Regions from separate parts of the Homo sapiens genome. Here regions 1, 3, 4, 5, 6 and 7 are each linked to region 2. The links come from fine-mapping of genetic effects on gene expression. A gene starts in region 2. Each other region holds a variant in brackets. All regions are shown on one strand. Distances are from middle to middle.

Region 1 (4,067 bases), 850 kb before region 2:
CGTCTTACCTCATCATCACAGCTGATGGAGCATTTGCCATCCAGGGAAGCACACTGTGAAGGCAAAAAGTGGAGGGAAATGTGTTACTATGTTACTTGGGCATCCCAGTGCCTGCTGTGGCTGCCACTGAGCTACTTAAGGACAAGCTATCCAAGTCATGGGCTAGAATTCAAATACCCAATTTCATTGAAAAGGAATGCTCCATGATGTGTCTTGTCTACTATCTCTGGAATCAGTATCAATTCCAAGTAGTAATGTAAAATAAAAGATCTATGAAACAACTGAGCGGGGTGGGGCAGGCACAGTGGCTCACACCTGTAATCCCTGCACTTTGGGAGGCCAAGGAGGGCAGATCACTTGAGGTCAGGAGTTCGAGACCAGCCTGGCCACATGGCGAAATCCCATCTCTACTAAAACATACAAAAATTACCCTAGTGTGGTGGCAGGCACCTGTAATCCCAGCTACTCAGGAGGCTGAGGCAGGAGAATCACTTGAACCAGGGAGGTGGAGGGTGCAGTGAGTCGAGATCGCACCACTGCACTCCAGCCTGGGAGACAGAGCAAGACTATCTCAAAAAAAAAAAAAAAAAGTCTACTTTATGTTGTCATTAAACAGTAATGATATCTTTTTAAGATCTCAAATCTTTTGGTAACTAAAAATACAATTATGTAATTAATTTAAAATTCATTAATTCTCAGTGACTTTAAAAAACCCCTGTCCATCTCCTTAGTTTATAGCTTCCTAAAGTATCTTAATTTAAAGGATGATAAGCCATTCTAACATTTATTCTTGGTCAGATGGAAGCAACTTATCAGTGGCCCTTTCTACCAAATTACTCAACAAATACCACTGAGATGACTTAGTACAGAGAGCATAGCGAAAAGAAAACAATGTTCCCAGATTCTCCAAGGTAGACCCTGTGAACAAAGAAGTCAGATACATGTTTTGGAGAAACTAGTTACGTAAAGGGTTTCTAGATTTTGATAATGAGATTCACAAGTAAGTAACCAGGCACGACCACAGGATTAGGAGAAAGTCAGAATGAAAATCTCACAAAAGGCCCCAATACTTAAAAGAAAAACTCCTTTGGAAGGTCACTATCTTGATCCCACAATTAAAACTGTTCCTAGGAGCAAATTCCCTGCTTTGCTCAGCATGTGGTGTCTAACATGCTGACAGCCCTTTATTTTGCAGTGAAATGAAAGGTAATCTGAGCAGCCGGCAGTTGATTTTACAAACATTCATCGGAAATCTGGCACTTTCAGGCTCCAGGTACCCAAATGGGAACACCTGTATAATAACAGTGTCGCTAATGCTTCAAGATGCTGATTATAACTTACCTGTCTGCTGGCAGTCCAGAACTTCCTTTGGAAAAATTCAAGTTTCATCTGAATGCCTACAGCTGGGACAAATTATAAATAAAACAAGGCATTAGTGATCCCTTTACACAATTATTTAAGATTATCGTTGAAAATTATCCGTCATGGCAAGAAGCTGATATAAGCATATAAAATAAAATGTACAGTGAAGCATACAACTAAAACATTTTATCTTTCAGGTAAAGAATTCTCAAGTTTACCTGCACTCACAGAACTCTCGATACAAAACAAACAGCACAGTGCAGATCGCTCTTTGGAGACATGTTACTTCGGCATTTCTAAAATTCATATGCTTGCACCACTGCCCCTACCCCCACCCCAACACAAGCTGAGAAGAGGAAAGAAAAAAAAAAATTCAAAAGATCACTATTGCTTCAGTTCCTGTCAGCTATTACTGTTTGAACTTGCATGTCTAAAATGTGTACTCTGCATG[T/G]GTTTTTGAGACGTAACATTTGAAAAGCACTTGTCATGAGGCTAGAATTCAGAAGTGAGTCACTTTACTATAATGTGTCTTAGTTTAACTGGCCTCCTAGAGTCCACATCTCAAGGTTCTTCTCTCCCATGGAACTCTGGTAAAATTATGTAATTTTTTCTTTGTCTGTGAAAAGCTTCCTAAAGCAACTGTGAATGCTAGTTCTAGTGACAGAAACAGCCAAAAAGAGAAGAGGTTAAGAATGTGACTTGAAACTTTGGGAAGTGAAATTTAGTGGAACCTCAAAACTATAACATGAGGAAGTTCACCTTATTTTTCTCCATGAAGCCCAAACCACTTGAAAGACCTGAAACCATCTCAGGAAGTAAAATGGTAAGGGCAAAATGCTCCTCAGATGGTGGGAAAACTTGAGAGGCGTTCAGAAGAATGAGACTACAGGGAATACTGAATTCCCTGGAGCACGTCATTTACCCCAGTGCAGTTTTGCAAACTGTAGTCTGTTGCACACAACCTCCCCATTTTTACCATATTTGCATACCACCAATACTCTTATTGTCCTTCCACATTTCTTTCTTTTGCTTAAAGACCTACAGTAATTCAACCTAAATAAAACTGGAACACCCATCAAAAGAAATACACAATTGTAAGAAAAAAAATCACTTAAATACTCTAAAAATTTTGCGTGCCACTATACTGGACCTCCCATTTGGGTAATCATTGTTGTGCTGGCTTCAGGAACTTGGAGATTCATAAAGGTCTTGGGCTGTTGTTACCCTGATAACTATCAAGGGCATTTCTACTTCCTAAAGAAATTGTTGAAGCCAGCCCTGAGAGTAAAGGTTAACTGGGTGTGTACATTGGGAGAGATTTGCCATCTGTGTTTGCACTTAGAATTTCCGACTCTAGGATAAAGACTAGAGCAGTGCACGGCTGCAACATGCAGAACGTGAAAAGCCTCTGAAATGCACCATGTCGGTGCCCAGGCTCATTCTGCTCTGCCTTAAGTGTCCTTCGTTCTCTGGACCACAGCCTTCCCAAGAATGAGGACCTGTTCTTGCTCCCTGCTGGACCCCTGCCTCCAGCAAGATGCTGAGTACACAGACGACCCATAGGTAAATGCTTGCTTTTTAAAAAAAACTTTCAAGTGATATTATAGTCAGCAGTTAGAGAGAAATATAGAAGAGTAACACCTATGCGAATCGTTTGTTTGTTTGTTTGTTTGAGACAGAATCTCACTCTGCTGTCCAGGCTGGAGTGCAGTGGTGTGATCTCAGCTCACTGCAACCTCTGCTTCCCGGGTTCAAGTGATTCTCATGCCTCAGCCTCCCGAGTAGCTGGGATTACAGGTGTGCACCACCACACCTGGCTAATTTTTGTATTTTCTGTAGAGGTGAAGTTTCACCATGTTAGCCAGGCTGATCTCTAACTCGTGGGCTCAAGTGACCTGCCTGCCTCAACCTCCCAAAGTGCTGGGATTACAGATGTGAGCCATGTGGCTGGCTTGGGTATGTTTTAAAAGTGTCCCAGATGATTCTCACGCACAGCCAAGGTGGGGGATGGCTTTAGTAAATCAGCTGTTGGGGACCTACTGTGATGTGGGCCACGTGGCCAGACTACACAACACAAAAGCTGTTCTTCCCAGCATTGGAGAACATTTCAGAGAATGCCTGAAAGAAGCTGATTTTGAGTCTGATGGTAGTTGACTGCATTTCAAATAAATCTCATCTTCCAAATGCCTGACAGGCCAGGGTGCAGGGTGCAAAACAGGGTCTGACTCCCTGAAAGAGTCACTCCAGGGTAGCCTTTCCATGGTGCTTCTCCCTCCAACAGCCCAGAGCTGTCCTGGGCCCACCTGTCATCTCTTGAGCTTCCATGAGTCTCCTGATGCCCTTTCTGAGACCCCCACCCCCGTTCTCTGATGGAGCCCTCATCTTCACCTCCCTGATGAAGCCAGCTGCTCCCCGCTGGGTGTTTATCCATCTCACATACTTGCAGTCTGTTCTCATCTGCCCCTGTCGGTCCTCTACCCCAGCTCCTTGGGGCGCTTTCATCTTTCCTCATGAGTCAGTCCCTCCATCCCATTAATCATGCAGGCTGCTTCTCTCTGATCTCCCTCCAGCAGGCTGCATCCTCGTCCTGGTCCTGATGCCCTGAACTAGAACTGCTTCCCTCTCTCCTCACTCACACCCCTGCCTGCACCATGAGGTTGTTGCCCAAAGGCTCCTGGATAGTCCTGGCTGCAATTGTTCTGCTA
Region 2 (4,067 bases):
GGGCCAACGCTTTATTACGATATTTGGATTTCATGTGGCAAACTGTTTCATATACTGTCCCCAAAAATGCTACTCTCTGAAGGGGAATGCCATAAATAAAATACGTACTTGGTTACCAGGCAGCATGCATAACACATATGGTACATTGGCCCAAAAATCATATTTTAAAATGTTTAAAAGTTAACTTAACAATTTAAGCTGTTTGTACCCATTTTCAGAGAATTATTCCCTAAAGGCCAATTTTATTTTCTATCATCAAGAGAATACTTTGATTAATCCTGTTGATCTGCTAACTTGAAATTCTTTGAACCCCTCTAATCTCTCCTCCCAGACCCATTTTTTTTTCTTTATTTCCTGAAGGGGAGAACGAAGGACCATTTATCTCACAATGTAATTTTAAGCTTATGCTTAAAATGCTGCCTATTTGAATTAAAATTGATGCAGCTTGTGATAAGAACCTAATAATCAATTCTCCATTCTCATTACTCTCCAGAATTACATGGATGCAGACCCATTTCTTAAGTTTGTGGACTACTCTCATAGGTTATTACCCGGCAGTGCAGCTGAGTGGAAAGATAACCACATTCATTCTCCTTATCTGCAATGATGTAATGCATCCTAGCCCTGGGTCTAGATGATTGGGGAATAATGGGATTGTACAACTGCAGGGATGACAAACAATAGTGCAGCGTCTTTCTCTGATACACTGAACCCCACGCCTCCAACGCAAGGTGAAAGGCATCACAAAATAGGCACTGAGTCTGCCCCTTGGATGAAGTTAGCATTTTTTGGCCCGAGGAGCATCTGCTCTGGCACTGAAACAGCAATACCGACACGGAGACGAGAGCCATGCAAAAACACTCAGTTTCCGAGCCCCAGCCAGGACAGTGCGAGTGAGTATCCTGCTTTTCTTTGTGGTTAGAATCAAGTGTCATCTAAAAATAACCGGTTGGTAGGAAGAAGTCACTGCATAGTACAATGCCAAGAAACCCGGGGATCAGAGAGTCCTCCGATAACTGATGCTGCTCGGGGCTCACGTTTGTTTGGAAAACTAAATCTGCCTCCATTTTCTGTGCCGGAAAAATCATCGCTTCCTGCCACCACAGAAACCTTACCTTTTGCAGAAGCTGGGAACCGGAGTACTTAGCAGCAATGGATTTTATCTCCCCACCAAAAGCCGAGGCCCAGAGCTTCACCCTACAGGGAGAAGGGGCACAGGAAGATATGTAACACCCGTGTCACAGTCAACACGCACGCACACGCACACGCACACATGGGACTATGGCTGAAGGAGCAGTGCGATGTAACATGTTTTAAAAGAAGAAAAGATAGAAAAAGCGGCTTGGTAGAAACTGCCAGCACCAAAACTGCAAAGCGCAGCGCGGGAGGGGGCCCGAGGGGGGTCGCGGAGTTAAGAATGCGCAAAGTCTCCCAGGCTCTCTAAAAAGACCACTGAGTTTCATTCGAACCACTGCCCGAGGACTCGACCCCCCAAACTGGGCATCACCTGGCAAATAGCAGTCAGAAGAAATCCACCCATCCCCCCCCCAAAAAAAGAAGTGGGGCGGCAGTAGAGCAAAGAGGGGGGAAATTCAGCGGCCCATGGAAGTTGGATTCGGTAACCAGGCTCCAAAGTTGGTGCCGTCACTTGAGGTGAGCCTCTCCAGATCTCACTCGGCAACCTGCGGGCAGGGGCCAGAGCATCCCACCCCGGCCTCGCCGCCCGACGCGGGTCCCGAAAGGCAGGTGCGAGCGGCGAGGCCGACGCCCGCGGCGGGTCCTGCCCAGCCGCACCTGCAGGCGCCCAAACTTGGGCACAGTGGGTCGCAGGCGGCAAGGTCCCCTCCCCGGGCGGCGCAGGAGCCGGCACTTACACGGAGAGCGGTATCTGCTGCTCCGAGCGCACCACGTCCCCCAGCGCGGCGTAGAGAAGCGCGGCAGCGAGAAGCGCCGAGGCCCCCCGGGACGCGCGGCGCGGCGAGCCCGGCCCGGCCATGCTGGGCTCCCTCCGACGCGCCCGCTGCGGCGGCGACGAGAGCGGCCGCGGGGAGCTGCGCGGAGCGGGCGGTGGGCGAGCGCGCGGGGCTGCCTGCTCCGCTCCGCGCCGCCCCGCCTGCCTCTCGCGCGCCCGGCTCACTTGGGGAGCAGAAAAAGGAGCGGGTGGGGGGGGCGGGGAGGGCGGAGAGGAGAGGGAGGGAGGAGAGGTGGGGAGGGAGGGAGGAGAGGTGGGGAGGGAGGCGGGCGGGGGAGGAGGCAGCGAGACGCGCCTCTAGCAGCAGCAGCCGCCCGGCCCCGCCTCGGCGGCCCCGGGGAGTCCGGCGGGCCGCGGCGGGAGGGCGGCGGGGCAGGAGGCGCCGCGCGGGCGGGGACTCGGAAACTCCAGTGTCCTTGGCCGCGGCGGAGCGCGCCCTGCCCCACCCGGGCTACTGCGGCCGCTGAGTTCTTTACAACTCCGCAGTCCGCCACCGCGGGCGCGACTCTGGGGCTGGCCCCGGGCCGGGCGACCCTAGCCAGGGTGGGGGTTGGGGGCGCGGGAGGGAAGCCGAGGGCAGGGCGCGGCGCTCCGCACTTTGCGGGCGGCTGCTAGGAGAGGGCGTAGCATGCCCGCTCCGCCCCTGGGCCGGGCGGGGTCGGGGGCCGCGGAACCTAAAGGGGGCGCGCCCTCCGCCCCCGCCGCGCGATTCTCCTGCGGGGAGGGAGCTGGGGAAGAAGCAGAAATCTCAGAAAGGAGCACAGGCTCGCGGCGGCAGGCGGGATCGCACGCGGGGCGGATCGGGCTGGGGATGGGACTGGGTGGGAGCTCGGGGCTCTGGCTAGGGCAGCGCTGCGTGACCGCCCGCAGCTGCTCCTCCGGCCGCGGCGCCCGACAGGGGAAAGCACGGAGGGCGGTGCTGCCACCACGGCTTGGGCGCACCAGCGCGGGGCTCCCGGCATCCGGCCGCAGCGCAGCGGCCCCCTGCGCGCCCGACCCAGGCCCCGGGGCTCCCCAGCGGCCGCTGCCTTCGGAGTCCGCCCGGCTGCGGTGACTGGTGGGGACCGGGATGTCAGGGTTGAGCGAGGAAGCCAACGCGGCGCCGAGTCGATCCTGACCGGGGGACACCCTGGATTTCGGGATAAAAGATTTCTCCGAGCCTGGGGGATTGCCTGCTCCCCACTCCGGCGCCCACCGCACTGGGCAGGAGGCAGTGAGCGCCGGAGGAGGCGCCTTCTCGCCGCCCTCAGGGGCGAGGAGAAAGGAAGCCGGAGAAGCCCCTGCGCGTTCTGGGAACCAGGCTTCTCCCCGCCTCTCTCGCCGCTGCCCCCACCCCGGGACCCAGCTTGCAGAACCCCTCTCCCCCGTGCGAGGTATGGGGTGTGATTGGGAACTTTGTGGAGCCCTCGCGCAGGCTGGCGGTAAAGACCGACCGGAGTGAGGCTGAGTCATCCTTGCCCGGCCAAGCGCAACTCCGGTGACCCCAGCAAGGAGTGCGCTCCTAACGTCGCCGGGGCTCCCGGCGCACCAGACACCTGGGTTCATATTTGCATGCCTTTCTGCAACCAGGGCTTTGCTTTCTGCCCCGTCACCCGCCCTTGGCCTCAGCATCCTCAGGTTGCAGGGAAGTAAGGGCGGGCTCCAGCTTCCGCCAGGTGGTGTCCGGCTAGGAGCCAGGCCGGCTCTCCTTTCCAGTAGTCCCTGGAAAAAGTTACCCCTGCAGATGTTGGGCTTGATCTCAGAGTTGGCAGCGAGGGAGAAGGACTGCTACCGAGAGGCTCTTAGTGCTTTTCCCGAGTGCGGGCAGACCCGAGCTCCCCTGGGCTCTGGCAGGTCGCGCTCCCACCTTGGGGGGCAACGCAAGGAACAGGCCCCTCTCCAGGAGCGCCAGGTGCGCCCCGCCCGCGGGCAGTGTCTACAGCCTCTACGGATGACTAACCGGTTATAATGAATTCTCCGCTTCTGTGCATACCCTCCGCCTGAGGAAGCGTGCCAGCCCTTTCCAAACCGAGCCAAGCGCGGCCTGACCCCCGAGGCAAGGGGTCCCAGGAGTTGACCCTCAAATTGGGGGTTAGAAGAAAATGTGTTTTCCTAT
Region 3 (4,067 bases), 76 kb after region 2:
GGCTCTCTTCATGTGGTGGTGCCCAGCAGCTGCATTCTTCATCATAGCTTCAAAGCCAGTAGAACAGAGCCTTCCCCAAAGGCCCTGCTTGGCTCAAATGCCCATTGCTAAGCCAATCTCTGTGGCTAAGGGTGGGGGACATGCAATGCTCTGATTGGCCAGGCTCATAGTACTCATACAGTCAGCCCTCCATATCCGCAGTTCTGCATAGATGGATTCAATCAACTGCAGATCTAAAATATTTGTTTAAAAAATATTCCAGCAAGGGGGCAACAAGGAAGCTCTTAAGAGCACAGCTGGAAAGAAGCTGAGTTACAGATATCCTGCCAAAATAATTTCTTCAAAGCCCAGACTTGCCGTACCCTATGGCCTCAAGACTCTGCTCAGGAAAATTAGCAAAGCCGTTCTCAAAACCAACCCACCGAACATGACCCAGTTTGCAGCAGTTTATTTTAAAGAACTTATTATGTATAGAGAAGGGACTACTTCTCTGGATGAAGTGGTCAGAGGGAACAGAATCTAAAGTGCCTACACAGATGGAAAAATCTACAAAGACAATGTAACCGGAACAGGATGTAGTGACAAAACCACCCAGTTTCCATCCATTTATGCTGAGCTAGGCACTGAGCAAACTGAAGCAGTTCGTGATCTTTCTTCCAAACCAGCCACCCCTAAGACTACTACCCCACCCTCATAACCATCTCCAACAGCTGTTTCACCAGAGTTTGCCTATGTCCCAGCTGACACAGCTCGGTTTGCTTCTCAGATATTAGCAATGGCAGCAAGTGAAGCAGGACAACCACGACGATATTCTAACATGTGGACCCCTTATTGTCTAACTGATAAGAATCAACAAAGTCACCCATCACTGCCACCTGCACCTGGGCCTTTTCCCCAAGCAACTCTGTCTATCTAATCCTAAGGATCCACAGTTTCTGCAGCATCCACCAACTTACAAGATGATCTCCAACTTACAAGATGATCGAAGATAGTAAGACCAGTGCCCCACCTTTTATCTTAGTAGGCTCAAATGCTCAGAAAGCAAAGGAATGGAAACCTCTTTCTGGACATGCTGTTGTTTCAAAGTCAGAAGTTTTGAAGAGATATGCTGCAGTATAAGTGCCCATTGCTGTTCCTGCAGATGAGAAATTCCAGAAACTTACCTTAAGCCCCCAGAATGCTCATCTTGCTACAAGTGGACAAGATGTCCCCAGGCCAGAAAGCCTTGTTTTTCTTTCTGTTGCTTTCTTAGTAGAAGGGGTAGCTTTAAAAAGTTCAGGATCTGGTGACAAATGTGCTCCCTTTGGAAGTTACAGTATTGCTTGGGAGATAACTGTGACTCATGCTCACAAAGTTCGCAAAGCAGAAACTTAAAACTGATCCAGAAATGACGCTGTTTGGGTCAACAAACGTTCAGGGAGGAGTCTGCCACCAAGTGTAACATATCAATAAACTTCACACAAGTACAAAAAATATATATATTCTACAAAGGTTCAAAAAGCAAAACTTGAATTTGCCGCGCAACAAGTACTAGAATGAATCCACACAAATGAAGTGATGTGTAGGCATTGTGTTAGGTATTATAAATAATCTAGAAATGATTTAAAGTATATGGGAGGATGTGCGTAGGTTATGTGCAAATACTACACCAGGTTATATCAGGGAGTTGAGCACCCACGGATTTTGGCATTTGTGGGGGTCCTGGAACAAATCCCCCATGGATACTGAGAGATGATTGTAAATCCTCTGGAGCATATGGACTGAAAATGATGCTGTTTCTTTCAGAAAAAGGAATGAGGGAATGGACACTGGATGCCTGTATTAGGGCGCTTAACATTAGCTACTATAACAAGCAATCCCACGTATCCATAGCGTGACTCAACAATCAGTTGTATTTTTCACTCGTGCAAAGTCAAATGCAGAGATGTTCTGGTTGGGCAGTTCCCTTGGCAGCTCTCCACCAGCACTGACTCAGGAAACCAAGCCTCTTCC[A/G]TCTTGGGAATGCTATTACCCACATCACATAGTCTCCAAGGTTGTTGTGGAAGGGGCAAAGTGAACTGGATGAAGCATAACTGCTCTCAGCTGCCTTGGCCTTGAAATGACCCAGCAATCTGCCCTTGCATTCACTGGTGAGAACTTAGTCACAAGGCCCACACAGATGCAAGGGGGCTGGGAAATACAATTTAGCCATGTGCCTAGGAAGAGGAAACAGATTTGTGGCCACCTGGCTTATCTCTGATACAAAGGCAAACACAATCCATTTCAAATACACAGCCAGAATTGCCCACTGGCTCTACTCTGGTCAAACATTGAGTCAGGGCCAGCAGTGTCCTGAGAGGTGATCTGGTTCCACTCTCTAATTGAACAGATGCAAAAGTAAGAAAAAAAGGGCCTTTCCCAGATCACTTGACACTGATGTAAAGCATATGGATTTAACTAAAAGTCTCAAAAAGGAATGAAGAGGCATTCCCTCTCTGCAGATGCCAGAAACTCCTTCCAACTACCAGCTTACGGAATCTTGCTCTTATCAAGCATGGAATAGTAGAAATGTGGCGGGTTTTATAGCCAGATAGCCCTGAGTTCAAATCCTAGTTCTATCTCCTTCTAGATTGAACAAAGAATTAAGCTCTCTGAGCCTCAATTTACTCCTCTCCCCAACCACAATATTCAACAAGCATTCAATTCCTACTCTCTTCTTATTTCCTACCGTAATACCAGTGATACCTAGAGTTTTCCAGGAGTGACTGATAGTTACTCTTGGGCCCAAGAGTATAATATATTTTCCCAACTTTTTTATGGTCAGGGCACTAAACCCAAAAATACTTCTACAGAAATCTGTAGAAGCTCTGAGGGTGAGGAAGTATCTCTTTGCAGAGGTGAATTAACCTTTGTATAGTAAACATTTTACCCCCAGAATGTACTTTGCTGATTCGATTATCACAGTTCCTGCTAGAACTTGGCTAGCTAAGCTGAAAATTGAGATATACTAGCTTCTCTCCAGGTCTTAAACAAGAATAATCACTTCTTCATAGGAGGAAGTGTCTCCATTCTTGGAGGTGACCAAATTCTAGGTCCTTTGCAAGCCTGTGCCTGGTAGACTACCATCTAGCAGGAGACCTCAACTCGCCATTTGAATAAGACACAAACTCTCAGTCCTCAGGCCAAAAGTGCATACCATGACTAAAGTGTTAAACAAACTGTCCGACTCCATGTTTCCAGGTCCTTTCTAAGGAAAGCAAGCTGTTTGCAAAGTCAAGGACTTCACCTGTCTCAGCAGGACCAGACCAGGAGACTAGCTTGGTTTCCAACACCAATAGCCACCCCAGGGCTGTGCGCAGCAGAAGCTTCCCCACCCCAGACAGCCCCCCAAATTTGGGATGGTCCTTCCCTTCCTTAACTCATCAAAACTTCACTTTGTTGCATGACTCATTGCCTCAGATCTTTGCCAAGCTCTCAATCAGCCAACCAACTTGATAATGTGATTCAAGGCTGCCAGTGATAGCATTTCCCAAAGAGCAAACATTCCTTTAAACAGAGGCCTCTTTGAGACAAACCACCTGCTTCAACCCCAGAAAAGTACATCTGAAAAGTAAGTTTGGTTGAGAAGGCATTTCTGTGTCCTGGGAATTCTATCAGTTTAGCTTTGTCTAAAAGTATGCTATATCACAAAAATTGGCCTCAGGTCTTGAGGCATTCAGTGATTCCTCAAGGAACATGGCCACGGATACTGTCTGAATTCCCTCCACATTGAATTAAGCTTCTGGGCAAGGGGCATTATAAGTGTAACACATTCATCATGTTTTGCATTTGCTTTTGCCAGGCTACACAAAAGGTCATTATAAAGTTTTTAAAATCTCATTTGGATATTTCTTAGAGGAGGTCTGCATTGTATCTATCCACACTTTCAGGAACATTATGGTTTCCTCTTCATAATACCAGCTTTTTAAAAGGCGTGTCTTTATTTCCTTCTGTTTCCTTTTGCTGGCCTTCAGAAACTGAGCCATAAAAGTGTGCCTGAAGTGTGGAAAGTGAAAACTGAGAAACAAACATATATTCATTCCACTTTG
Region 4 (4,067 bases), 860 kb before region 2:
AAGGGTTATACAAGGTTTATGAAAATCTTACCTCGTGGTCAAACTGATTAAGACTGAATACATTTGTCTATAAGGTTTTATTAAGAATTGGATTTAACATTAATAGTACACTAATGCAAAGGTAAAACTTGGCTTATTTGGTATAAAAATCATAACAGGAAGCATTATCAAATGTGAAACAGTGTTTGGCTTTCTTTGGGATATATTTATATAGTTGTGCTATTGGTATGTGTTCCAAAATTATAAGAAGTCCTATAATTCTAACATGGCTTACTGTATGTTATTAATAGTTATAATTGTTATGTAAGATTTGGATGCCACAGAAGTAACCAAATTTCTTTATCAATTGTGGCTTTAATAGTGGCTGTCCTAAGACTTTTTATCATCCACAGACAACTGTTGTCTTGTTTTAATCTTCTTCAAGAGATGGTTTATAATCAACTATAGAACTCTGACAGTGCTATTGAATGCAGATTTCTGATAATGTTGGAGATTGTGACATTAGAATAGAGGAAGAAAGTTTCAGGACTCTCACAGAGAGCTGAAATGTTCATGACAGAACAGGAGTTCTGTTCAAGCAGAATAGGAGTCAACTGCATGAACTGAACTAATAAAAAACTGAAGTAATATTTTTCTTTTACTTTTTTGCTTAAAACATTGCTGATCCTTTTTGTTTTCCAGGGCCAAGAAAATTTTTCTTTTGAGCTATTTACAGCTTTTAACAATTGAGTAAACTATACTTCTGCGAAAAAATTTAGAGAATATTTGTTTCTCTCTACCTGGTTCCTCCAGAATTTGGAAACTATTTGAGAGTATCTTAACTTATGGCAATATAGTTATTTGCATAAATGCAGTAAGAATCTCTTTTCTATTGTAATAGGATACAACTGGAGAAACTGGTTATTTTACCAAGGCTTTGACTGGAATGGTGTGTTTACCTTTAAGGAATCAAACTTGACTTAGAGAGCCAAGAAGAGCCCCTTGAAAAAAACTAGCCTCATACCTTGTCTACACAGTCCCTGTACAGGGTTCCTGACCTGTGGTAAGTAAAGAATGTCACCTTCTGAAAGGCCCAGGAGCCCCAAGTTATTTTGGGACCTCAAGAGGAGAAGAATTTACTCAACTCATAGATATCTGGGGTACAAACCCATGGCTAGGCTTGGCTTTAAAAAAAAGTCTTATCTGAGATTCCCTCTATGGAACAAAATTTCATCAAAGACAAATTTAAAAGCCTATGTGAAAAATAATTATTCTTGCTGCACTGTATACAAATAATCAGGCCAAGTATAATAAAGCAAATTAGTCTTACTATGATTTGTCTCCAGCAAAAATGGGAAACTAGAGAACAATTATGTTTCAAGAACTGTGGTATAACCTGTTATTAAGTTCTAGTCTCATCAGTTGATTTTAAGGTTTTTTTCTGTAATTTAGGCCAACCCTGTTTATTCCTGTGAACCAACCAGTGATCTCTTGACTGCTGCTCAGAAGAAACAACAGGGATGGGTAATGTAAAAATCTGGATCAATATTCTAATTCTGGGCATGTATTGGAATCAGCTAGCAACCTCATATCAGCTTGGTTCCAATAGTTGCCCAGTTCATGGAACGCCTTATTTAGTTTACTTGGGATAATTTTACTTATTTTGTTTTACTGTTTTGGAATACGTTGCTATTGTACTCTTTGTGTAGAAATGCTGGACAAGCTTACTAAATGTTTTCTTACACTGAGCACTTTTTAATCTTCTAGATATCATCTTTTGTCAGAACT[C/T]GGAGTCATGAACGGCCCTTGCCATACCAATGCTTTCTGACTGAGCTCCTCTCTATCTACCCTGAATGCAAGAGACCCAATAGTTAGGCAGGAATGGCATTGCCCCTATCAGCTTGAAGAAGTTACAGAAGATGCATCTTTATCCCTCTGCAACCCTTAGGATTAAGGGTTTTCTTATAAAAGGGACGGGGGAAATGTTAGAGGTGTTTGAACCAGAGCAACTCCATCTTGAATAGGGGCTGGGTAAAATGAGGCTGAGACCTATTGGGCTGCATTCCCAGACGGTTAAGGCATTCTGTGTCACAGGATGAGTTAGGAGGTCAGCACAAGATACAGGTCATAAAGATCTTGCTGATAAACAGGATGCAGTAAAGAAGCTGGCTAAAACCACCAAAACCAAGATGGTGATGAGAGTAAACTCTGATCATCCTCACTGCTACACTCCCACCAGTGCCATGACAGTTTACAAATGCCATGGCAACGTCAGGAAGATACCCTATACGGTCTAAAAAGGAGAGGCATGAATAATCCACCCATTGTTTAGCATATCATCAAGAAATAACGATAAAAATGGGTAACCAGCAGCCCTCGAGGCTGCTCTGCCTATGGAACACCCATTCTTTTATTGCTTTATGTTCTTAATAAACTTGTTTTCAGTTTACTCTGTGGACTTTCCATGAATTCTTTCTTGTATGAGGTCCAAGAACCCTCTCTTGGGGTCTGGATTGGGATCCCTTTCAGGTAACATCATGATGCTCATTCTGCAGATACAGACAATGAAGCAAGGGGCGGCTAACCTCTGTTGAGTCAGTAAATACATGTTGAGTACAGAAGTGGCCTCCATATTCAGATACTGTCAATATTCAAATCCCCACAGCTGCATATAAGGCCACAAATCATCATAACCTCTACTCCTAGTTAAAACTTAGTCCCTACTCCAACATCTCTAACTAATTAGTACTCTTGCTATTAGACCTACATCTTTGGTCAATATCTTTCTGTTTGCCTAATACTGTAAATATTGAGCAATGCAATACAGGTACAAGGCAAATAGATTATAAAGTCAATTGAAAATCTTGACAAAGAGGCAAGATTTCATGAAGTCCATGAAAGTAACGTTAAACAGCTCCAATCGCACAGGAAGCCATTGGCACATTAGAATCTGTCAGAGGCAGAAAGATGAAAAAATACCTGCTACAAATAAAACATGAGCTGTACTTCCAAAGAGAATAATTTCAACAGCAAAGGACTAAGAAAAGTACCCTAGGAAAATTGATCAAACTCTTTACTATATTTTACCCTTTTTGTGGTCATTCTGAGAAAAATCAAAATATAAAGTGAAGGATTTCATATTGTGCTATTTTATCATCTTATCAGAAACACTAAACTCCTGGCCCCTTACCCCATTTGTTTCTTTGGAAAATTAGAGTACAATTGCAAATATAACCTAAATTTATTTAAAAAATAAACACAGTTTCATACTTTCCACTTTATTTAGAGAAAAATATTCAAAATAACTTTTTATTATTTGCTGTAAACATTTGGTTCTTTTTCTGACCTTTCTTCTTAGAACGAGGCCCTCCTTATAATGCTCCTTATAACAGCCAGCACCAGTAGAAGGGAGATCAGAAGACTCACTTCTCAGGCGTCTGCCCTGCTCCCTCCCACTCCCACTTCTGGTGTGGAAGGAACAGAGCTGAGAGCTCTGGAGCAGGGGCAAACACTGCTTTAACTCAGAACTTGGAAAACCAAGCTGCAAAAATAGGGGAGTGGCCTCCTTGGGAGAATACCAGATGAAAACTATCACACAAAGAAGTTTTTCATAAAACATGACTGTCACTAATAATAGTAACAATAAGAATGTAAGAAGAAGAATAAGGAGGATGGCAGCTACAGGAGGACATCGACTCATGAAAACCTCACTTTTCACAGCATCAAGCAGGGAATTTTTCTCTTGGAAAGAAGAGAAAACTGAGATGTTGTCTTTTTTTAATTATTATTATTATACTTTAAGTTTTAGGGTACATGTGCACAATGTGCAGGTTAGTTACATATGTATACATGTGACATGCTGGTGCACTGCAACCCACTAACTCGTCATCTAGCATTAGGTATATCTCCCAATGCTATCTCTCCCCCCTCCCCCCACCCCACAACAGGAAGGGGAACATCACACTCTGGGGACTGTTGTGAGATGTTGTCTTCTCCAAGGTCACACACACACAAGTGAGACTTGAGTCCATTGCTATGGGACTCCAAAGCCCACACTCTTTCTACTGGCTGACCCCCACCCTTACTTT
Region 5 (4,067 bases), 880 kb before region 2:
GTGAGAGGCAGCATGGGGTTGAGAGGAATGTGCATGTGCTTGGAGTCTCATAGCCATGGATGCAGGATGGCCATGGTTTCAAAAGTTGGTCCTGTCGTATATACAGGGTACATTCTTTTTTTTTTTTTTTTTGATATGGAGTCTCACTCTCTGTCACCCAAGCTGGAGTGCAATGGCATGGTCTTGGCTCACTGCAACCTCTGCCTCCCAGGTTCAAGCGATTCTCCCACTTCAGCCTCCCGAGTAGTTGGGACTACAGGCACATGCCACTACACCCAACTAATTTTGTATTTTTAGTAGAGATGGGGTTTCACTATGTTGGCCAGGCTGGTCTCGAACTCCTGACCTTGTGATCCACCTGCCTCAGCCTCCCAAAATGCTGGGATTATGGGCGTGAGCCACCGCGCTCGGCCTCCAGGGTGCATTCTTGAGCAGCTTGCTGGTACTCTTCAAAGGCTTCGTTTCCTGACTTATTAAACAATTACAGAGATGTTCTGAGATCTAAATAACCAGCTGTGTAGAAGTACACTGAAATATGCTCTAAGTGTGCCAACGTTGTTAAGATCCTTACAACAGAAGACTGATTTTATTCTTTGTTAGAGTTCGGGCTCTTAAAGCTGCACTGTTCCCAAAGGCTCAAGAGAAGGCAATGTGACATAGTGAAAATGCCATCTTTGAAGTCAGTAATACCTGAGCTCAAATCCTAACTCATCCACTTACAACAATGTCTTTTTAACCCTCTTGGTGCCTCAGTTTCCTATCTGTGAAATGGTGAGAATAATGACTACCTTATAGGGTGGTCATAGGGTTAAAGAAGGTTATCTATGTGTTGCATTCAGCACAGTGCCTGCTAGAGAGGAAGTATTCCAACAGGAGGCAGAGCTATAGCTGCTGTTATAAGTATTGGTATCTTTTCATTGCCACTACCAATTAATGGGCTGGTGTTTAAAGGAATGGGAATTGACACAGGCATTACCCAGCTGGCTGAAAGATGAACAAGGCTCCCGGTTTTCTTAGCTCATTGGCATAGACAATGCAGAGGAAAATCCATGCTTGCTACTGCAATACAAGGACACCATCAGAAGCTGTGCTGGTGTTACCAAGCGATGATGCAGGAACTTCTGTCCATGGGCTTCTTAGCGGAAGGCAATGATAACAACAGCTGATGTGTACTGAACTCTGTTTAGCAACCATAAGCGAGGTACTCCTCTAAACACATCCCTATAAGATAGATTATAATCATCTCCATTTTACAGAGGGGAAAACCAAGTCTTAGCCAGCCTAAATAAATATGCCCAAGTTCACATAGATCATTGGTGATAGAGCCAGATTTAGTAGGGGGCCAAGCTGAATCCACCACCTTTTGCTCTCTGCTCAGAAGCAGGCTCTGACAGATTCTAAGAAATGCTTAGGCTTCAGACCTGTTCCCCAGCCCAGGGTCTTATTGGAATGTCACAAAAAATGCTGCCCAAGATAACCAATGTCCAGAATCAACTTTCAACCCAAGCTGAAGGGCTGATGAGTCACCAGGCCAGACTGGAACAGCTGGCTGCACTTGTGAATACTTCTTACCATGGTAACCACTCTGACAGATGGCAGGAAACTCAGGATTCTCCTTGGATCATTTTCAAAGGCTCTAGTTTACATGTTGGGGCTAAACTAAATTGCTCTGGGGCAGCCCCCAGGCCAAGGTTCCTTTTATTTATTTATTTATTTTTAAATATTACTTTAAGTTATAGTATACATGCGCAGAACAAGCAGGTTTGTTCCATAGGAATACATGTGCCATGGTGGTTTCCTGTACCTATCAACCCATCATCTAGGTTTTAAGCCCCATGTGAATTAGATATTTGTCCTAACACTCTCCCTCCCCTTGTTCCCCACTCCTCTATTTCAAAAGGAGGCTTTCCTGATACTATTGCCATTGACGAGGTTACAAAATAAGCCTTCCCTGTCTTCTCCACACTTGGACAGCTTTAACTAGATATTGCAGCAGGAGACTTCCAGATTATTACCCTTTTTGAAGTGACTTTGTTACTGTTTTAAATAACTCCATTTTGCGGCTACCTGT[A/T]TCCTGTTCGGCTGATTACAGTTAAAGAACATGATAATTGCCTGCTTTCATTTGACTCTAAAATCAGCTCTGAGAATCATGCCCAGCCCAAGACTGGTGCTGTGTGCAGCTGCACTCAGCAGTGGGGGTGTATTCTTATTACAGATAACATGCCTTAATCCCCATGACATCACCACCAGGCTACTCCAACCAACCTTATCATTAGCATCGCTGTGTGCCCACATGGATGGTGGAACTTTGAAACTTTAAACTTTGACAGAAGGCAGATACGGCCTCTGAAGAAACAACTCAAAGCAATACAAACAAAGCCTGGTAGCCCTGCACCCATGCTGGGTAGAGCCTTGGATGACAAACTCATGACATTAAGACATGTTTAAAGCCATTTTGCTGATACTGTTCTTTCTTTTCCAACTAGACAAAAATCCTGACCAAGAAAAATATTTGCTCTAAGAATTAGCAGGCTGCATTTTAACAGCATAAGCTCAGCTAATTTAGGCTGGCTAATTTAGGGGTGGTTAGCAACTGTGGGGCTCAACATTTATTAAACACCTACTATGTACCGTGAGGCCAGGTAATTTTCCTGTAATGATTCATCAAATTAGCTCACTTTGGCTAAACAACTGGCCTAAAAACAATCTTGAAACAGCTTAATGTCTGCAAATACAGCCCTAAAAACAGGACAAGGGAGGCATTAGACATAGAGACCTATCATGGGACATAATTAAGCAATTCCGAATTGAAAAGTCTGAGAAGCAAAATGACTCACTAAGGTAGCATGTAAAAATATGTCTTCTTTGTTGCGCTATAAAATGTGTCCTCTGGGGGCAGCTTTCAACTTGCAATTGAAAAGGCATGGGGGAGGAACATAGGAAATTCTTAACAAAGAGACCGTCGCCATGGGAAGCCCTTACTCATTCTTACATCTCAGAAAGCCAGGAAAGTAGAAGGCTCAACCTGTTGATAGGAGTGCTAATAGAAGATTCAAAATGTGCTCTCCCTTCTCTCCTGCTCGTATCAGTCATCATCTCATCCCACAGCAACTTCTTGCAGAGATGGCACTGTTCTTTAAGATTGGTGCAGTGTCTCTAACACAGCAGAGGCAGTGAATTTACAAAACCCTGGTCCTACTGCCTTTGAGCCCTCCAACTGGAAATTAGTTAAACAACTTTAGCTGGCCGGGCGCGGTGGCTCACGCCTGTAATCCCAGCACTTTGGGAGGCCAAGGCGGGCGGATCATGAGGTCAGGAGATCGAGACCATCCTGGCTAAAATAGTGAAACCCCGTCTCTACTAAAAATATAAAAAATTAGCCGGGCATGGTAGCAGGTGCCTGTAGTCCCAGCTACTCGGGAGGCTTAGGCAGGAGAATGGCGTGAACCCTGGAGACGGAGCTTTCAGTGAGCTGAGACCACGCCACTGCACTCCAGCCTGGGCGACAGAGCAAGACTCCATCTCAAAAAACAAAACAAAACAAAACAAAACAAAACAAAACAAAACAAAACAAAAACCAACTTTAGCTAATGAGCACCCATCATTAGCCAAGAATAAACCACACAGGCTATCAGGACCTCCCAGGGTTCACTGCTGAACACTGAATGGGGAGCAACAAGAAAGCGTCACTCATTTGGTGGATTAAGCAGAGGGTCTGTTGGCACCAAATCAACACCTTTCATCAACAGGTGCTGATAATATAAAGAGAAACAAAATTGTAGATACTGAGATATTAATCCCATCAGCATCTTACCCAGGTAAGAAGAACAGTAACCATAAGAATTAATTGATTAAAGGCCAGGTGTGGTGGCTCACGCCTGTAATCCCACAACTTTGAGAAGCCAAGGTGGGCCGATCACTTGAGGTCAGGAGTTCAAGACTAGCCTGGCCAACATGGCAAAACCCCATCTCTATTAAAAATACAAATTAGCCTGGCGTGGTGGCACGCACCTGTAGTCCCAGCTACTCGGCAGGCTAAGACATGAGAATTGCTTGAACCCAGGAGG
Region 6 (4,067 bases), 760 kb before region 2:
GTCCTCCCTAAAGACATCCAGAAAGACTACTGTTCTGGGCCCACTCCTCCTCTGTGGACATGCAAAACCTAATGACCTGCAAGTGAGTCACTCAAGGCCACTCAGGGAGTGGTGCCCTTCAGAAACAATGTCCACCACCCCTGTGAGCTCCTAATGCTGGGACAGGTAACCTCTCTGAACTACTAGGGAGCTGGCAGATGAAAAGGATAGCACATGTGACAGCAATTTTAAAATTTAAAGAGCTATAACAACTGCTCCTGTTTACTGAGAGTTTACTGTGCCTCTGTGCTTTATGAAGATAAGAGGGTCTGGGAACTTCAAGGTGCTACTTACTCCCTCTGACCTATGTAAATCATTTAAATGGTCACATTTCCCTTTGGGCCAGGGCTGCCATGAAACACAAGTGAAATACGTGGCTCAACTGTGTAGGAGAGACTAAGGCTCTCATATCTCTGTTTTCATGGTTTCCCCTGGGCATGAGTTATTTCATAAATTTGTATTTCTCCCAAGTACTGATTTTTATGTATGAGAAGAATATACTTGAGGGATGATTCCTATTTACTGATACTCTGCTTTCATCCATAATGCTGTTGACTGTGAGTTACTCATAGTCAACAGCTTTGTGGATGAAAGTAGAATATAAGTAAATTAAATCACAACCATGAATCGGAACTCCTGTCATTCTGAAATCTAGGCACACCAGGGAAGAAGAAAGGTATTAAGAATTATCAAGTAGGCATTCGTTTGAGTGGAATGTCCAAGGGACTGGTCACAGGTGCGGACAGATGAACAAGTTCTTCAGCTAACTCAGTAGCTAGCTCCCGAGCTTTCCTCCCACACCAAAGGATAAGACGAGCCAGGCAGTATCTTACCTTCTTCGATGGTTACATTCCCTCGGAAGAAATATTTCCCATGACCTCTGGAAAGCGCCACACCTAAACTGTGCAGAGAGACAAAGCAAATCTTGAAATCCCTGGCATCGACTCGAATAGACTTGTGGGCTAACATTTTTTAATTTTCCATTTTTCACATTTCCATTTTATGATCTGTCAACAATTTTTCCAACTGTTTACTTTCAAAACCCCACTGATTATCACTGGTGTTGGTTTTTCTTAGGTTCAATCAGCTGCTTCAAAGTAACTTCTGATCAGAAATGCCAGCAGCAATTGGCTACTCTTTGTGTTTTCAGAGTTGTGGCAAACTGCTCGCCCTTCCAGCAAGCCCTTCTCTCAGATGCCCTCCCAAGGACCATGAGCCCTGCTCTTTATACACCCTTGTCCTGCATTCAGCCAGAGATGGGTCTCTCCAGCCCCTAGACTTTGGGACTCGGGAAATTGACCCCTGCTCAAGGGCAAAAACAAAAACTTCCACTACTACATGAGTGTAACCACATTACTGTGTTGCAGGCTTCTTTGCCCAATCCTCTCCCTAGTCTAATAGGTTTTTCACACTCACTGGCTTGATTTAAGATCCATTCCGTTTTTATCAAAAGCAAGAGACTATGTTTTTAAAACATAGTCCCTTACGTTAGAGAGACTATTTGGCAAACCCACTTAGCAGCTCATGTGGTCCTTATTTGCTCCTGGTTCCACATGGAATCCACCCATGATCCTTGGCAGTTTAGGACAACAATGCTAGAATTTATTTTTCAGATTATTCTACAGTCAGTAAACTCCTTCTCTCCTTAGCTCTGAGACGCCAGTTCAGGAATATGAAGCAGGCTTACTGAAATAATTTTTTACAAAATGAATTACAACACTAAGTTAATAGTAGTGGGAAACTTTAGAATGCTACATACACATCTGAAAGCAGCCAATGAGGCAAAGCCATTTTTCAGGACTGTTACAAAGAGAAACAACAGGATTCAAAAGTAGACAAGCACACAAGGACAGTTCAGAGAAATGGAAACAGAGGCACAACATGTAGGAATGGATATGCCACCTCCAGGTTTGAAGGATTGTTTTTTTGGTCATGGAAATAAAAGGTGAAATGGAACTCACAAAGCAGCAAGTTCAATAGTTAAGGACCCTGGTAACCCTCTGCACTTGTCTTCACCCTTAGCGGGAACCCCCAAAGCATATTTGCTTGACAATGAGATGCAAAGCCATGGCAGATTGAGTGAGTTCTCCTAGGTGAGCCTGAACCATCTCCCC[C/G]CCTTCTGGAAAACAAAAGCAGCCTGGGAAAAGCCCCTTCCTCACTCTTTCCAGCCTTTTGGCAGGGTGTTTGGTTATCTTCAGATGATGAGCTCTGAGAGTGTCAGCAGGTTTTGTACAAACACAACTGATGGGTCTGATGGAATGTCCATGTATTATGGTCAGCTCTACCTGAAAGGAGTACCCTTGATGTCTGTATAATAGTAGTCATTTGTCATCACCAAAACCCGTTTCTAGATTGAAAAAAAAAAAAAAGTCGTAGAGAAAAGAAAACATGGTTAGTCTGCTAAGTGACGTCTTCAGAAATAAATAAAAATAAATGGACACACTATGATCAGGTTAACAGTACTACATGAATCTTGTTTGAGATAAGTAAAGACAAGAGAAAAATGATCTCAGCGAAAGATATTTATTCCAGATATAGCTTTCAAAGCTAATTTTTCACAGTGGTTTGTTTTAAATTAAGCAGCAAAAATGTTTGAGAAAAATGTACCCCTTTGTCCACTGTCTTCTTCACCTCCATGGAAAACTTCCCCGTCTTTCGATTCACCATAGCATTTCTCAACTAAAATGATAAAAGAAAAGTGTGTTAGTTCTTCCCTGGGTTATCATGTAATCTGGACATCTTGCATCCTCAGCGTGCAGTGGAGCCTCCATATTGAACTTACACCTCGAAAACAGAGCTTCTGAAGAATAAAACACCCAACTGCTCATGTACAATGGGAGACAGGCTAACAACAATAAATAAATGACCTTCATCTTTAATTTGGGGAGCTCGTGTAAACTTCAGGACAATAACAAAAGAGCCTTGGCGATACTGATGAATCCCGGGGGTCAGAGCGTGAACTCCTGGAGACCCGCTGAAATGCCGAGCAAGAACGTCTCTGGGGACAAGGTACGTTTTCAAAAAGGGTACTGATTTGTCATGGAGAAATCACTTTTCAAAACGTAATCAAGTTAAAGACGTTTTCCTACACAGTAGTTAAAAAGAAGAAGAAAAAAAAAAAAAAAGGCCAAGCATTTGGAAGACAGGGGTTAGCCTTTCCTAAGATGAATCATCTTTAAATGCTCTCTGAGAAATCTGGGCCAATTAATGACCTTGCTGATGAGGCAGTGAACAGGAGCGACCCTGTATCTGATTTTTTGGAGGTCCTGTTTAGGAGCAGCGAGCCTGGCTCTCCTCCCCCACCCCCAGCTGACCTCATCTAATTACATGTGGCCCTTCCATGAGTTCAGAGGAGGACAGCAGACGCAGTGATGAAAGATGTGCCGTCATGGGCACCAAGGCAAGACGACAGAGAAGGCCAGTTAATGGAATAGGAGCAAACGCTGACATGCCACAGCCTGTCAGGAAAGGCTCTCTCCCCACCCCTCTCTTGTCTTTTTCATCTTTTCCCCTCTTTTCTCCTTTGAGGAGCTTGAGTAAGATCTGGCCGATAGAAAACTGCAACACTAGCAAGCAACCTAAATTTGATTCGAGGCTGTCTAGATTTGGGTTTGCATTCTCATCTTCTGTGTGAGTGAGTAAAGGCATAATTTTTAGCTGGAGGCATGTATAAAATAAAACATATATTTTACTCTAGATATTTTTTTAACAACACATAATAGGCATTTCTGGAAATATTTTCCCATTTTAACTTTTGTGGTTTTGGACAGGGAGAGCTGGTCCTAATTAAGTCTACTTTCTAACTTTTAAGAACGGCTCGATTTATCTTTAACATGGTTTTCATTTTTCCTCTTTCTGGTGCCTGCCTAAAGCCATTTGGGACCTTCTCCTCTCACATTCCCCAGGCAAACTAGAGATTAGGTAAGCCTCGCTGTGTCTCCATGCCACCCCACCCCCAACTCCCAGTAGCACAGAACAATCAACATGGGGGTCTGGGAGTGTCCAAGGCCAGGGTCACTGATGCCTCC
Region 7 (4,067 bases), 860 kb before region 2:
TTCAGCCGCAGAAGAGTAATAAACCAGGGGCCTGCCTACCCACTGGCCACCGATGTGCAATGGATCTCTCAGGGAAGCTGGAGGGCCATCCTTGCATTTCCTGCCATTATATATTTAACAGCATCAAATATGCCCATTAAAGCACCACTTGAAAGGCTAACATTCTTCCTGGGAGGCCAAGGGAAGGGAGACAGCATGGACCCCCAGGGAGGCATTCTAACACCCGATCTCATGGGATGATGGCTTTTCCCAGAAGTTTAGGTATTCCCAAGAGCATGGCTGGCCTGCCCATGAGGGACATGGGGCCATAAGGAAGCTGCTCTACACAAGCTTTATTCAGGATCAGCGAGAGTTCTTACACCTGGATGAGTAGTCAGTATCTGCCACCTGTGGAATTTGGCACCATCTAGGTTTTCTTCCAGAAGCAGACTTAAACTTACCTCCATCAAGAGCGGATTTTGAGAATTTTCACTTGATTTTCTAAAACAACATCAAGAAGTCTCTAAATACCACCTTTCATCCCCAAGTTCCAGATTTCTAGGGAGCTTCCCAGGTTAATCAATAGGAGACAAAATACACTCCACCCTTCCGGCCAGGTGAAAACCTTTCCTACTTCTTCGCAGTGACTTGCTTCAGACTGACATAATCACATCACAGTGCAGCCTCCTACTTCAATACTGGCCTCCAATAAATGCTCTGCTGGGTGAACAGGAAACTCATTGTGAACTGAGTTTCTAAGACTCTAACACTCTAACACTCGTGCAAGAGGCATCGAATTTCAGAGAGATCTTTTGGAGCATGAACACAAGTAAAAACCAGCCACAGGGTCAAGTCTGGGCTTGCTTTATTTGACCTTGGCTTGTTTTATTTTATTTAGGAAAACTTTTGGGGGGAATGCAGTGGACCATAAAACCCTTACCTTTTAAAGGAGCCCATTGTTAGCAATTTGTTCATCACAGCTCCCTCGATCTCACCAAAAAAGTCTCCAGTCTATGGGGAAGAAGACATATGAGGAGGTGTAGATAAATAATGTGCCCAAACAGGAGAGAAGAAATGAAAAGGGACACAGTCTGTGTCCTGGAACTGACAGGAGCAAAAGGCAGGTTTTCAGGAAAGTGGAAAAGGTTTTAACAGTCATGAGAACTCATGGGATTACACAGCAAACTAGAGAGCAGATGTGAATGCTTCCACAGTACGTGGGAGGGGGCTGCGTAACCCATGCTGAATGCTGAAATTAAAACACGCATGCACACACATGTGCACACACACATACCCCACTACCCTTGGATGGAGTAGGTAGTAATATGCACATAATCCCGTGTGATTAAAACACTACTTCATATAGGCAGAAACAGACTATGAGAGGGCTTCCTAAGCACTAATAAAAAGAATTGTTTATAATTCCTGGACGACCTGTTTAGGGAAATACAGCAGTCCACTTCATCAGCCCAATAAAGTTCCTGCAGTTGAGAATCCACCCTTTCTCAGAATCACTTTCTGAGGATCACTTTCATTTTGTCATAGGCAGTTGACATGTTGACCAAGAGTAAGACTATCCAGCCCCTTGAGGAGACAGCATGGCCAATGAGACTTCTAATGGCCTACCCCACACCTGAGGCTGTCTTAAGGTCATTCGAAGCTTTGCAGTCATTCCCCACCACCAGGCTGATGTTTTTGTAAGTCTACTTCTTGGTGCTGGCCAAGATTTGCAAACTTTGGTGGAATGAAGAATTAACATCCTCATGCATGCCCTCTGAATTTCTGGAGCTACTATCATGCAAGGTGTCCCATGGGGGAGGGCGTACGCAGTGCATGGAACAGAGCCTGCAGTAAGGGCCTTCTGCCAACATGCTGAAATGAGCCAGTGTTGACCAGAAGAGAAGCCCCATCTCTACTCTGGGTGCTCTGAAGATTTGTAGCTTGTGAGTGGGTGGGTGGGTGGGTGGAGGGCACTGCAATAAGAATCCAAATTATGTATATTCCGTAGGCTTTGTATTAACTAAACCCCAATTCCATTGCAACTAACTGAGTGACCTCAACCACACTCCTGGGAGTTTTCAGGTAGCAAGACACATATATAAACTTTGGCAAAATGTAAAGGGGGAGAAAAGGAGGAAGAAGGAAACAACATTTCTCTGACTGAATATTGACCACTTCCTTTTTCACTACAGGGAAACTTGGAAACTT[T/C]TGCAAACTCTGTGGGCGTGTACTACTGCTAGGAGCAAGAAGGACATTTGTATTTCGTGTGTGTAATGTGCCAGTTTCAATGAAACTGGTTGTTAGATGAAGAATTATCCTAATTGGGGCACAGGAAGTCAGACAACATCAAACAAGCCCAGGCTGAGCAGGCTGGCAAACTCACTGGGTCTATCGCAGGCTTATTCCATGGAGACATAGAGCAGAGAATCTGTAGTGGCCATGGCTGCTCATGGCTGAAACAGAGACACTGTTTCCATCATTTGTTGGCTGCTCCAGGACTCACCCCCGGAAGACATCCACTGCACCCTTCCTGAGCCCCGGGATCATTCCTCTCTCACCCCTACATGAGTAGAGCAGAAGACTAGAGCTCCTCCCTCTAGGCAACTAATGTGTATTCTTGCTCCATAGATTCTTGAATGCCTATGTTCCTCCTCCCAGCCAACAGGGCATATAACTATAGGCCAAAGGACTTTCCTGCTGTCTCAGGGACTGGCCTTGTTTCATGGGCCCATTCATCCTATCTAATGTCCACGGACTGTCCCATGTCTAGTGATGTAAAGCATCAGAGGAGACTGGGAATGGGCATTTTGAGTCTCAATAGCGCAACCAAGGGGCACTGAAAATCCTACAACATTCTCATAAAATAAGACAGGAAATGAAAGCACAATTCCTCAAGTTTCCTGGAGCCCCTGTTTATAAATTACCAAACCATTCATTTCAGACCCTAAGAAGCCACACTTAAGGACAATTAACTAATTGATTAAGCAGTGAACCTATCATACTGCTGACTACTAAAGAATTTTAAATGATTTAAAAGAGACTTCATTATAATGTATTAGTATACTCAAATATTTGAATTAGAAGAAACCTTATATCGTCAACCATCCTCATTGCACAGAGCCTATCTAGAGGTCTAGACAAGTTAAGGAACTTGCTGATGATCCCAAAACTAGTTAAGGAAGAGAGCTAACATCAGAAACCACCTTCCTCCTGTGATGGCGTTACTTTATTATATGCACTGTTGAACTTGTTTGTATTTTACCTTTTTTTATACGTTAATGTAATTTCTAATTGCAGGAAAAGTTTTAATGCAGAAAATTTGAATGGAAAAACTCGTTTTTCTATTACAGTACCATCGACTTTAACTCTTATTTTGATTTCCAGGCAGAGTGGAGATTTCTGTGCTCAAGTCCACAGCTTGGTTTCTTTTCATCTCTCTCCCTCCCACCCCTACACTGCACATGGTGCAGTCAAATGAAGAATATTCCTCTTCTATCTCTGGACCCTTGTCCCTCGGTGTTGAGAGCCCAAGCTGTTAATCCTTGAACTCAGATAACTGATTTTTAAAAAGCAAAAACCAGAACGAAAGCCATAAACAATAATTATGTAGAAACATACGTGTATGTGTGTGCACACATATGAAGATGAAATATCGGAAGGAAAAAAACCTTAAAGTTGCCCAAACTATTTAAGGCACCCCACCCTCGAGGCAAAAGTTCTTTATGTGGCACAGACAACTCTTTGGCTAAGAGTTCTATAAATTGAACATTTTATGAGTGAGAGAACAGACCCTGGGCACTGTCACCCCCCTGCACCCCCCAGTGGGAGGTAAAAACTCTTTGGGGCCTGCTGAGAAGCAGACTGTGGCATTCTTAGAGGGATGGAAATAAGGTTTTATAATCTCCTGCTATTACCTCCTAAATAAAGATCATTGTCTCCAAGTTTTAACACCATAATTTGTTCCCCCTGACCCAAGCACATTCTGAGATCCTTACTTGGAGCTGGTAGAAAATTTTCACTCACCTGTGTGTAGTCTTCAGACACCAAAATAAATCCATTATTGTCTATGAGGTAACAATTCACAGTCT

What was found. PIP is the estimated chance that this variant, and not a neighbour inherited with it, causes the effect.
Region 1: its variant is fine-mapped to the expression of CACNA2D3 in whole blood (TOPMed, PIP above 0.99).
Region 3: its variant is fine-mapped to the expression of CACNA2D3 in spleen (GTEx, PIP above 0.99).
Region 4: its variant is fine-mapped to the expression of CACNA2D3 in whole blood (TOPMed, PIP above 0.99).
Region 5: its variant is fine-mapped to the expression of CACNA2D3 in whole blood (TOPMed, PIP above 0.99).
Region 6: its variant is fine-mapped to the expression of CACNA2D3 in skeletal muscle (GTEx, PIP 0.99).
Region 7: its variant is fine-mapped to the expression of CACNA2D3 in whole blood (TOPMed, PIP above 0.99).

Annotation. Positions count from the first base shown.
Region 1 is chr3:54,965,786-54,969,852 of GRCh38, reverse strand. It overlaps CACNA2D3 (calcium voltage-gated channel auxiliary subunit alpha2delta 3), which reads right to left. Exons shown (of 38, transcript NM_018398.3): 28 at 1,342-1,403; 29 at 9-53. It also overlaps a transcript of LRTM1 not described here. Among named protein-coding and RNA genes, the nearest start is that of LRTM1, 40 kb to the right of the region's middle. The variant T/G (reference allele first, on the strand shown) is at 1,814.
Region 2 is chr3:54,120,643-54,124,709 of GRCh38, reverse strand. It overlaps CACNA2D3 (calcium voltage-gated channel auxiliary subunit alpha2delta 3), which reads right to left and starts at 2,158. Exons shown (of 38, transcript NM_018398.3): 1 at 1,875-2,158; 2 at 1,116-1,197. The coding sequence starts at 1,996. LOC124909381 (a long non-coding RNA gene) reads left to right here and starts at 1,268. Exons shown (of 2, transcript XR_007095914.1): 1 at 1,268-1,653. RefSeq lists a silencer at 3,352-3,401.
Region 3 is chr3:54,045,057-54,049,123 of GRCh38, reverse strand. It overlaps the pseudogene CABYRP1. Among named protein-coding and RNA genes, the nearest start is that of CACNA2D3, 75 kb to the left of the region's middle. The variant A/G (reference allele first, on the strand shown) is at 1,993.
Region 4 is chr3:54,976,184-54,980,250 of GRCh38, reverse strand. All of the region lies in intron 29 of CACNA2D3 (calcium voltage-gated channel auxiliary subunit alpha2delta 3), which reads right to left. Among named protein-coding and RNA genes, the nearest start is that of LRTM1, 50 kb to the right of the region's middle. The variant C/T (reference allele first, on the strand shown) is at 1,768.
Region 5 is chr3:54,998,223-55,002,289 of GRCh38, reverse strand. All of the region lies in intron 31 of CACNA2D3 (calcium voltage-gated channel auxiliary subunit alpha2delta 3), which reads right to left. Among named protein-coding and RNA genes, the nearest start is that of LRTM1, 72 kb to the right of the region's middle. The variant A/T (reference allele first, on the strand shown) is at 2,072.
Region 6 is chr3:54,877,669-54,881,735 of GRCh38, reverse strand. It overlaps CACNA2D3 (calcium voltage-gated channel auxiliary subunit alpha2delta 3), which reads right to left. Exons shown (of 38, transcript NM_018398.3): 19 at 2,647-2,718; 20 at 2,325-2,386; 21 at 873-940. CACNA2D3-AS1 (CACNA2D3 antisense RNA 1) reads left to right here. Exons shown (of 7, transcript NR_046666.1): 4 at 2,792-3,048. Among named protein-coding and RNA genes, the nearest start is that of CACNA2D3-AS1, 22 kb to the left of the region's middle. The variant C/G (reference allele first, on the strand shown) is at 2,154.
Region 7 is chr3:54,984,606-54,988,672 of GRCh38, reverse strand. It overlaps CACNA2D3 (calcium voltage-gated channel auxiliary subunit alpha2delta 3), which reads right to left. Exons shown (of 38, transcript NM_018398.3): 30 at 4,003-4,065; 31 at 920-990. Among named protein-coding and RNA genes, the nearest start is that of LRTM1, 59 kb to the right of the region's middle. The variant T/C (reference allele first, on the strand shown) is at 2,188.